Linked DNA regions of Homo sapiens: region 2 is linked to region 1. Evidence: fine-mapped expression QTL. A gene starts in region 1. The other region holds a variant in brackets. All regions are shown on one strand. Distances are between the middles of the regions.

Region 1 (5,000 bases):
GGAAGCAGTATGGTGAGGGGCTGTTAAAAGTCCTTCTTACCTAATACATTGTTCTGCCAAAGGCTTTCCTGGTAAGGAGATCCCAGTAGTAGTAGGGGTCTAAGAGGACCACCCCACCTTCATTCCCTAACAAGTTCTATTTTCCGAAGTACCTGCCGTTTGCTTCTTGCCTAGGTCCTGACTGGGGTCTGACTTCGGGGCGGGGAGTGGCAAGCAATGGCAACGCTGGCCAGTTGAACTGTAACTTCCTGATCCAAAGACAATAAGCTAGTCAGGCATTGTGTGGCTCACTCCTGTAATCCCAGCACTTTGGGAGGTCAAGACGGGCGGATCGCCTGGGCCCAAGAAGAGTTCAAGACCAGCCTGGGCAATGTGGAGAAACCCTGTCTCTACAAAAGTACAAAAATTAGCCACGCATGGTGGCATGTACCTGCAGTCCCAGCTACTTGAGAGGCTGAGGTGTGAGGAACACTTGAGCTGGACATGGAGGTTGCAGCGAGCTGAGATCGTGCCACTGCCCTCCAGCCTCAGCAACACAGTGAGACCCAGTCTCAAAAAAAAAAAAAAAAATCAAAGACAAAAAGCTAGGCCAGGTGTGGTGGCTCACGCCTGTAATCCCAGCACTTTGAGAGGCCAAGGCGGGAGGATCACTTGAGGTCAGGAGTTCGAGACTAGCCTGGCCAACATAGTGAAACCCCCTCTCTACTAAAAAGTACAAAAATTAGCTGGGCGTGGTGGCAGGCACCTGTAAACCCAGCTACTCAGGAGGCTGAGACCTGAGAATCGCTTGAACCTGGGGTGCAGAGGTTGCAGTGGGCTGAAATGGCACCACTGCACTCCAGCTTGGGAAACACAGCAAGACTCCATCTCAAAAAAAAAAAAAAAAAAAAAAAAAAAAAAAAAAAAAGACTATAAGCTAAACACTGGAAAGACAATAAGCTAGAACTTCCAATGAAATGAAGTTCCCCAAAGTCCAACTGCTACCCAACAGGGTGACCCTATCTGCTAAGAATTCTGCTAGTAGGAAAACTAAGTTGGGTGGGGGAAGAGCTGACAGAAGGGATTTAAGAACCTTACAATTACTTCTGGTGACACAAGGTGCATAAAGGAATGGTAAGAACCTTGGTCCTCTGTTGCCTCACTGGGTATCAGTAGTTGGATTTTCTAAAAACCTGTTAATAACTCAGGATAGGTTCCCAGATAGAGGCTGGAAGCAACTTCTGAAGCCATCCAGTCCACTTCTGAGACTTAAATAGGGAGAGATCCAGATACCAAACATTACCCAGATGAAAAAGAAATCGGCCGGGCACGGTGGCTCACACCTGTAGTCCCAGCACTTTGGGAGGCCGAGGCGGGCGGATCACGAGGTCAGGAGATCGAGACCATCCTGGCTAACACGGTGAAACCCTGTCTCTACTAAAAATACAAAAAATTAGCCGGGCGCGGTGGCGGGCGCCTGTAGTCCCAGCTACTCGGGAGGCTGAGGCAGGAGAATGGCGTGAACCCGGGAGGCGGAGCTTGCAGTGAGCCGAGATAGCGCCACTGCACTCGGGCCTGGGCGAAAGAGCAAGATTCCGTCTCAAAAAAAGAAAAAAAAAAAAAAAGAAAAGAAAAAGAAATCCCCAGGATGATGGGAGAGGACCCTCCTTACCCACTGCTTTGGTTTCTTGGATGCTCTGTGAAAATCTTCCACGAGGGTCACAATCTCCTTGCTGCTCATTGGACATCGATGCCTGACCCGAGCCTGGATCTCCGGGGGCAGGATGGTCAGGAACTGCTCCATCACCAGAAGCTCCAAAATCTGCTCCTTGGTGTGCAGCTCGGGTTGCAACCACTGACGGCAGAGCTGTCGGAGCTGGGAGAGAGCCTCTTGGGGTCCAGACACCTCTTGATAACAAAAGCGTCTGAAGCTCTGGCGGCAGAGCTCAGGATCTGGGCAGTTTTTTTGCAGAGGAGGGCCCCGTTTCTCTTCTAGTTTGGCTATTATGTGTCTCTCTTGCTTGGAGGAAGCTTCAGTGTTGGAGCTTAAAGTTATCTCCATTTTAGCTGCCATTTTGGGCGTCAGGAGACAACTCTCTCCTTGTAAACGGGTTAAGCCTTTGGGATCATGACCCTGGAGAAGTCTCTGAATACTAGAAAGATTCTAGAAACGAAGGTTCTCTGAGGATGTTAGGGGGAACGGGATGCAGAGACAAAGCCTCACTTGCTAGCCTTTACTAGCCAAACTCAAGACAACGCGGTCCCTGGGAGTGGGAAGAGTTTTGTCTTCTTGTCAGTTTTTTGCAGTCTTGCAAAGGAGAAAAGTCATAACGTCCTAAAAGGACTCTGGGGAAAAAATACTTCTTTTATTTCAGTAGCAAGCACACAGGTCTCGGATTTAATGAGCAATACGCTCTAACCGGCGGGTGGAGCGGAATCCCTAGGAAAAGTTCAAGCTGTCGCAGGTAGCTTGCCCCAACTCTCCCGCATCCTGGCGGAAACCGACCGGGTGCATGTCGCCGGGTGCTAAACGGTAGAGCTAAGCGAGGCCACAGCGCCAGCCGGGGGTGTGAGGTAGCGAACAGCCTCCTGCACGCGAGCAAAGCGGCTGCTCGCTGCCGAGGCGCCGCAGGCCCAGTGGCTCCGGCCTCCAGGGCGGCCCCGCGGCCCAGCCAGCCCCAGGCCTGGCGAAGCTGCCGCAACCCGATGCGCAGCTGAACTCCACGCCCGGTGTGAGCTCGGACTGGCGACTGCGACACCGGTACCCCGAACAGCCCGGCGCCCCGCACCCACCTGCAGCCGACTCACCTCTCCGGGAACCCAAGACCGAGGGACTTAGGACCCGACACCGGCGAGCACGGGCTGGGGGCGGGGCCGATGCCACTCGCTGCGGAGACGCCCACTAGCTGCTGAGGACAACTACTGACAGGGCCCGCCTCCTGCCAAGGGCATTCTCTACCGTCTATTGGTTGCTGCGCCTGTCAATACCGTCGCAGTGCATCCCGGGAGCTGCAGTCCGGCAATTCGGCTTGCGGGCCTGCGCAGGGGCGTGCGTAATGGGCGGAGCGAATCGCGCCGCTGACTTCCGGCCCGGAGGCTGAGGGAGTTTGTGGAGTCGCGAGTGCTGGTGTCCGGTGAGTTCTCCGCTTCCTTGCGGCCGGCGGGATTAGCCGCTGGGCCCTGCGACGGCCGAGGAGCCCCTCCCCGCTGGGAGTCTTCTCCGAGGCGTTCGGGTCCGGCCCCGATGGGCGTCTCCTTGGGACAGGCAGCCTCCCTCAGGCCGGGCGTCCCCAGACGCGCCGCGATCACCGTGCCCCGCTCCCACCGTGCGGATCACCCCGAGCCTGAGCGCCGGCGCCCCGGGACCCCCTGGCCTTGACCCTGCTCATCTCGTCCCTGTCTCGCCCACTCCCTACTCATCCACAGTGCCTAGCCCTGGCACCGAGTGCGTTCTGAGTACTCAATAAATAGTTAACTAAGTGAAAAACCTATCAACCTGGCTCCCCATCCTCATGCTACATTTTTTTCCGAGTGTTTGGGCCATCGCTAGAGTGAAGTAAAATTTTCAGAGAACAGCATTTTAAAATTTAACGATGAGTGGGAGGTAAGGGGTCAAAAGGGGTCAAGAAGGGTGCAGGTTCCGCCTTCTGCATGAAGTTAGAAGAGCTTTTATTAAATTCTTCTTCAGCCAGGTAAGGCACAGGATGAACATAATGAAGGCAAGGGGTGCTGGTTCTAGTCCTGGCCTTGCTGCCTAGGAGCTGTGCTGTGTGATGCTTTAGGCAAGATACTTCATCGCTCTCAGTTTCTTTTTGGCTAGAAAGCAGTGCTAACAATAATAATGCCCTTGATTTCTCTATCTCTAGAAGCACTGAAATGTAAAGAGAATTTAAGTGAAGGCAGTTCAAGTTCCTTGAGAAAAGGGAACCCAAATCCATTTTTAAAATATAAAAAAATTTCTTTAATTTTTAAAAAACATTTACCATCATAACCATTTTTAAGTGTACAGCTCAGTAGTCCTGAGTATATTCATCTTGTTGTGCATGCTGGATCCATTTTAATACCACATGGTGAGGGTGTATCAGCCCCTGGAGAAAATGTAAATTACGATCTGCTTTAATCTGTGTTTTAAGTAGATAAAAACCAACACAAACTCATTAAAAAAGACTGCCTTCGCGGGTGCAGTGGCTCACACCTGTAATCCCAGCACTTTGGGAGGCCAAGGTGGGAGGATCACTTGAGCACAGGAGTTTGAGACCAGCCTGGGCAACATAGTGAAACTCCACCTCTACAAAAAATACAAAAGTTAGCTTCTATTTAAAATTATTTTTAAGGTCGGGCATGGTGGCTTATACTTGTAATCCTAACACTTTGGGAGGTTGAGGTGGGAGGATTGCTTGAGTTCAGGAGTTTGAGACCAGCCTGGGCAACAGAGTGAGACTCCATCTCTAAAGATAAAAAAACAAATAAAATTATTTTTAAAAGTTATTTATTAATTTTAAATTATATAAAACTATTTTTAAAATTAACTCTTAAAAAAATATTGCCTTACATAAACTGGCCTTGGAGATCCAAACATGTTGTCAAGACTTGAGTATATTGTCCTCTTGTAAACAGGCTCACTCCTGTGATGGAAGAGTGGAGTAGAGAGTGGGACATAGTTGGAGACAACTCTGATCTTACATTTGCCCAATTTACCAATTCCTAGAAAATGAAGAGCTTTCCCTACCTCTCATGTAAAATCTGAGAAAAGAATTTTGATAGGCCTAGCTGTGTGTCATATGCCCACTTCTGGGGAAGTGGGTATTGTAATTAATATCCCCACCAGAACCAATGAGAGGGACTTTTTCTTTTTTTGAGACAGTCTCGCTCTTGTTGCCCAGGCTGGAGTGCAATGGCGTGATCACAGCTCACTGCAACCTCCGCCTCCCGGGTTCAAGCGATTCTCCTGCCTCAGCCTCCCGAGTAGCTGCGACTACAGGTGCGTGCCACCATGCCCAGCTAATTTTTTTGTATTTTTA
Region 2 (5,519 bases), 29 kb after region 1:
GCTCTGTGGGGCTGGCCAAGCACACAGTGGGGCTTCACCCGTTCGTTCACACCTTCCCTTTACCCTCTCACCTTGGCTCTTAGCCTTTGTTGAATATCTGGGCTCTGGACCATTTCAGATCTACTGTCATTCTTTCTCAATGGCTAAGCCACCTGACATCTCCACATGGGATCTTCTAGTCCTCTGGTATTAACAGTATCTTTTGATTCCGGCTCACTCTGTCCAGACTAAACTAATCCCTATAAACCTGTTCAGAAAACTTGCTTATCAGTCCAAATTAAAATCAGGTTCTCTTCCTTGGGTGCCAATAGGTCACCATGAATGTCCCAAGTGTCTGAGGAGTAATGAAGAAACCACAGTTGATTGTTGCCTGGCAAGGGCTGACCAAGATAGACAAGAAGTTGCTCTGCAGAGCCCTGTTTTAACTCCAGCCTCATGCCAAACTGCTCAACTACCTTTGGTGCTAGAAGTGGTTGAAGGACTCAGTGGAAAGTAATTCCATGAAATTAGGACATCCTACCCCCAAATAAGCCTTTAACAGAAGTCCTCTCCCACAAGTGTGCAGCTGCTGTCACTACATAAGACCTGGAACTGAGGACTGCTGTCTGCCTCTCTCTGGTCACCCTGCCTATCTTGAGGATCTGTAAGTAGTGAAAACTCTGAAACTTTCACAGTGTGGCTGTGGTGGTCTCACCCACCCCTGATGGTGAGACCACCCCCGAGGAACCCAGGCAGCCAGATCCCCTGCTGGTTTCTTCTTCTGGGGCCTCTGGTGGCTGCTGGGCACAGTAGCTAAGTTAATGGAGAAACCCAAAGAGTTCTGTGTAAAACACCAAGACATGACCCTTCTAGGGGCTATCATGGAATATGGGCCTTTCTGAAGGGAGGACTGGAGGACATGACAAAGCTTAGATAAGGAACTGAGCTGTCTCAGTCTGGCAGCTGCACCACCATTTCACCTGCTTCTTTCCCCCAATTCTGGTCATGACAGAACTGTACGGTCATGTCTATGATGTCACAGGCACTGATGAGCTCTCATCCCTGGATTCTTCCCCTTCCAGCCTGAGACTCTTTTGTGTCTCACCATTTCTTGGAGTCACTGGGTTCCTCTATAAGGCCTTATGGTCTGAATGGTCCTGAGTATGAGCTCTGGCTCTTCTCTTGGGAAAGTCCCTGAGGAAGGGGGCTTCATTGGCTCTAATAGGAGCTTGGCAACTCCCCCCATAATCCCAGAGAAAAAAAAACCCTATCACTGACACCCTACCTCATCCCTTCAGAAATCCCTGTATGGGCTCAGAGAGCAGAGGTATGGTAACAGAGATTCCTGAAAGCCAGAGCTAAACACTTGAACGTGGAGCGGGGCAAGTGCAGCTGAGCAGAACAGAATTAGAAGAGCAGTCAGATATTCATGTGGCCAAGAAGCACGTGAAAAAATACTCATCACTAATCATAAGAGAAATGCAAATCAAAATCCCCATGAGATACCATCTCAAAGCAGTCAGAATGGCTATTACTAAAATGTCAAAAAATGACAGATGCTGGTGAGGATGCAGAGAAAAGGGAATGCTTATACACTGCTGGTGGGAATGTACATTAGTTCAGCCACTGTGGAAATCAGTTTGGAGATTTCTCAAAGAACTTAGAGCTACCATTCAACCCAGCAATCCCATTACTGGGCATACAGCCAAAGGAATAATCGTTCTACCAAAAAGACACACGCACACATATGTTCATTGTAGCGCTATTCACAATAGCAAAGACATGGAATCAATCTAGATGCCCATCAATGGTGAAGTAGATAAACAAAATGTCATACATATACACCATGGGATACTACACCACCATAAAAAAGAATTAAATCATGTCCTTTGCACCAACATGGATGGAGCTGGAGGCCATTATTTTAAGCGAATTAACAATGGAAGAGAAACCCAAATAACACGTGTTCTCACTTGTAACCGGGAGCTTAGAAGTACACATGGATACAAAGAGGGGAACAGCAGACACTGGGGCCTACTAGAGGGTAGAGAGTGGGAGGAGGGTGAGGACTGGAAAACTACCTATTGGATACTATGCTCATTACCTCGGTGACAAAATAATCTGTAAACCAAACCCCCTCGACAGTCAAGGTCTCAGCACCACAGCTGCCAGGGACACAGAGCACATCAGGGTCCTGTTGGCTTAGGGCAGTGCAGGAAGGTCTGTGGCTGCTCCCACCCCAGATCCACAGCTGTCACACCGTGCAGCACAGTACCCAGCCCCAAGCTGGTCCCACTTTGGCCCCCTCCCTCTCTCTCTTTTTTTTTTTTTTTTTTTT[G/TTTG]AGATGGAGTCTCACTCTGTCACCCAGGCTGGAGTATAGCGGTGCGATCTCGGCTCACTGCAACCTCCGCCTCCCGGATTCAAGCGATTCTCCTGCCTCAGTCTCCTGAGTAGCTAGGATTACAGGCACGCGCCACCCACACCCGGCTAATTTTTGTATTTTCAGTAGAGACGGGGTTTCACCATGTTGGTCAGGCTGGTCTCAAACTCCTGACCTCGTGATCCACCTGCCTGGGCCTCCCAAAGTGCTGGGATTACAGGCGTGAGCCACTGCGCCTGGCCTCTGGCCGTCTCTCGAGCAGAAAGCCAGCTGTATTGATCTGTCTGGGGGAGAGGTGTGACTCAGACACTGAGGACTTAACTAAAGTGCCCACACCTTGCTGGGCATTGCAATCCCTCCATCACAGAGCAGGCCTTTCAAAAACCAGCAGATTCTCATTCAGAGTAGGACCAGGTGAACATAACCTGCAGAGGAGAAAGGATGCATTTTACAGGAGACAAATCTCCCATCCTTAATATTGTCCCTCTTTGGGACAGCTGTTTAGACCCTAGGAAATAACCTTCCTCCAGAGAGTAAAAAATATTACCACCGTAGTTGGCCCAAAAGCAGCTACCGATTAAGAAAGCATTCAAGGCCAGGTGCGGTGGCTCACACCTGTAATCCCAGCACTTTGGGAGACCGAGGTGGGCAGATCATCTGAGGTCAGCAGATTGAGACCAGCCTGACCAACATGGAGAAACTCCATCTCTACTAAAAATACAAAATTAGCCAGGCATGGTGGTGCATGCCTGTGATCCCAGCTACTCGGGAGACTGAGGCAGGAGAATCGCTTGAACCCGGGACTCGGAGGTTGCAGTGAGCCAAGATTGCGTCACTGCACTCCAGCCTGGACAACAAAAGCGAAACTCCGTCTCAAAAAAAAAAGAAAAAAGAAAAAAAGAAAGCTTTCAAGCTCAACATCCAATTATTTTAAATCCTAATCACTCTATTGAACTCCTAACATTACATTAGACTAATCTATTACTTAATAGAAGCAATAATGTTAATATTAGTAACACGAAGACATTCTCCATTGCATAAGCTTATATCAAACCAGAATCCACTGATAGTTAACAGCCTAATATTAATAAAGAATAAATACCCTATTATTTATACCATTAATCCAACACAGGTATGCTCTAAGGAAAGATTACAAAAAGTATAAGGAACTCGGGAAATCTTACCCCACCTGTTTACCAAAAACATCACCTCTGGCTTCACCAGTATTAGAGGCACCGCCTGCCCAGTGACATATGTTCAACAGCTGCGGTATCCTGACATTGTAAAGGTAGCATAATCACTTGTTCCCTAAATAGGGACTTGTATGAATGGCCACACAAGGGTTCAGCTGTCTCTTACTTTCAGTCAGTGAAATTGACCTATCCATGAAGAGGCAGTATAAACAAATAAGATGAGAAGACTCTATAGAGCTTTAATTCATTAATGCAAATAGAAACTCAAAAAAAGCCTACAGGCCCTAGCCTACTATCTTTGCATTAAAAATTTTGGTTGGGGTGCCCGGCGTGGTGGCTCACGCCTATAATCCCAGCACTTTGGGAGGCTGAGACAGGCAGATCACGAGGTCAGGAGATCGAGACCATCCCGGCCAATATGGTGAAATCCCGTCTCTACTAAAAATACAAAAATTAGCTGGGTGTGGTGGTATGTGCCTGTAATCCCAGCTACTCAGGAGACTGAGGCAGGAGAATGGCTTTAACCCGGGAGGTGGAGATAGCAGTGAGCCAAGATCGTGCCACTGCACTCCAGCCTGGCAACAGAGCCAGACTCTGTCTTAAAAAATAAATAAATAAAAAACAAAAAAAATAAAAATTTTCTTTTATTTCAGAGCATAATTCAACCTCCAAACTACCTAAACTAAGACCGCACTAGTCTAAGCAAGTTAACACACACTGACCCAATAATTTGATCAACGGAATAAGTTATCCTAGGGATAACGGCACAATCCTATTCTAGGGTCCATATCAACAACAGGGTTTACAGCTTCAATGCTGGATCAGGACATCCTAATAGTGTAGCCGCTATTAAGGGTTCGTTTTTTCAACTATTAAAGTCCCATGTGATCTCAGTTCAGATCGGAGTAATCCAGGTCGGTTTCTAACTATTTAACATTTCTCCTAGTACAAAAGGACAAGAGAAGCAGGGCCCATTTCACAAAGCACCCTTGCCACCATAAATGATGCTGTCTCAATCTAACAAATCATCACACACTCTACCATCTTAAACAGTGTTTAAGATGGCAGACCCCGGCAATTACCTAAGACTTAAAACTTTAAAATCAGAGGTTCAACTCCTCTTCTTAACAATATGCCTATAATCAATCTTCTCCTACTTATTATTACCACTTTAATCGCTATAGTATTCCTTACACTCATTGAATGAAAACTCTTAGGCTACATACAATTACGCAAAGGACCTAACATTGTAGGTCCCCATGGACTGCTTCAACCATTCGCTGATGCAATAAAACTTTTCGTCAAAGAACCCTTACGTCCCTCAGCGTCTACTATTACCTTTTATACTACTGCTCCAACCCTAGCTGTTTTGATCGCTCTCCTCTTGTGAACTCCCCTCCGCATACCAGATGCTCTAATTAATTTTAATATAGGCCTCCTATTTATACTAGCCACATCAAGCCTAGCCATCTACTCTATCCTATGATCAGGATGAGCATCTAATTCAAATTACACACTAATCGGCACATTACAAGCTGTAGCCCAGACAATTTCATATCAAGTCACTCTAGCCATTATCCTTTTATCAGTTCTACTAATAAGTGGCTCATTTAACTTACATGCATTTATCACAACGCAAGAATTCCTCTGACTGCTTCTACCATCATAACCCCTAGCCATAATATGATTTATCTCCACACTAGCAGAAACAAACCGAGCCCCTTTTGAACTAACAGAAGGAGAATCAGAGTCAGTCTCAGGCTTTAACATCGAATATGCCACAGGTTCATTTGCCCTCTTCTTTATAGCAGAATATATGAATATTATCGTAATAAATGACTTAACTATTACCATTTTTCTAGGAGCACTACACACTATATATTCACCAGAACTCTATACCACAAATTTCATTACCAAGACCTTTCTTTAACCACCCTGTTTTTATGAATTCAAACAGCATATCTCCAATT

Which allele goes with the higher level. Alleles are on the strand shown, and positions count from the first base shown. SD is a standard deviation of normalised expression in the study named.
In carriers of allele TTTG in region 2, the expression in monocytes after R848 of the gene that starts at base 3,054 in region 1 tends to be higher than with G alone (moderate effect, 0.61 SD a copy in Quach 2016).

Evidence for each region. PIP is the estimated chance that this variant, and not a neighbour inherited with it, causes the effect.
Region 2: its variant is fine-mapped to the expression of ZSCAN32 in monocytes after R848 (Quach 2016, PIP 0.95).

The regions. Positions count from the first base shown.
Region 1 is chr16:3,399,058-3,404,057 of GRCh38, reverse strand. It overlaps ZSCAN32 (zinc finger and SCAN domain containing 32), which reads left to right and starts at 3,054. Exons shown (of 7, transcript NM_001284527.2): 1 at 3,054-3,113. ZNF174 (zinc finger protein 174) reads right to left here and starts at 2,843. Exons shown (of 3, transcript NM_003450.3): 1 at 1,652-2,843. The coding sequence starts at 2,053. LOC105371059 (a long non-coding RNA gene) reads right to left here. Exons shown (of 4, transcript XR_007064949.1): 3 at 4,532-5,000; 4 at 4,389-4,427. RefSeq lists silencers at 2,497-2,716, 3,267-3,416 and an enhancer at 2,794-3,293.
Region 2 is chr16:3,370,068-3,375,586 of GRCh38, reverse strand. All of the region lies in intron 1 of LOC105371059 (a long non-coding RNA gene), which reads right to left. It also overlaps the pseudogene MTND1P8 and the pseudogene MTRNR2L4. Among named protein-coding and RNA genes, the nearest start is that of OR2C1, 17 kb to the right of the region's middle. The variant G/TTTG (reference allele first, on the strand shown) is at 2,318.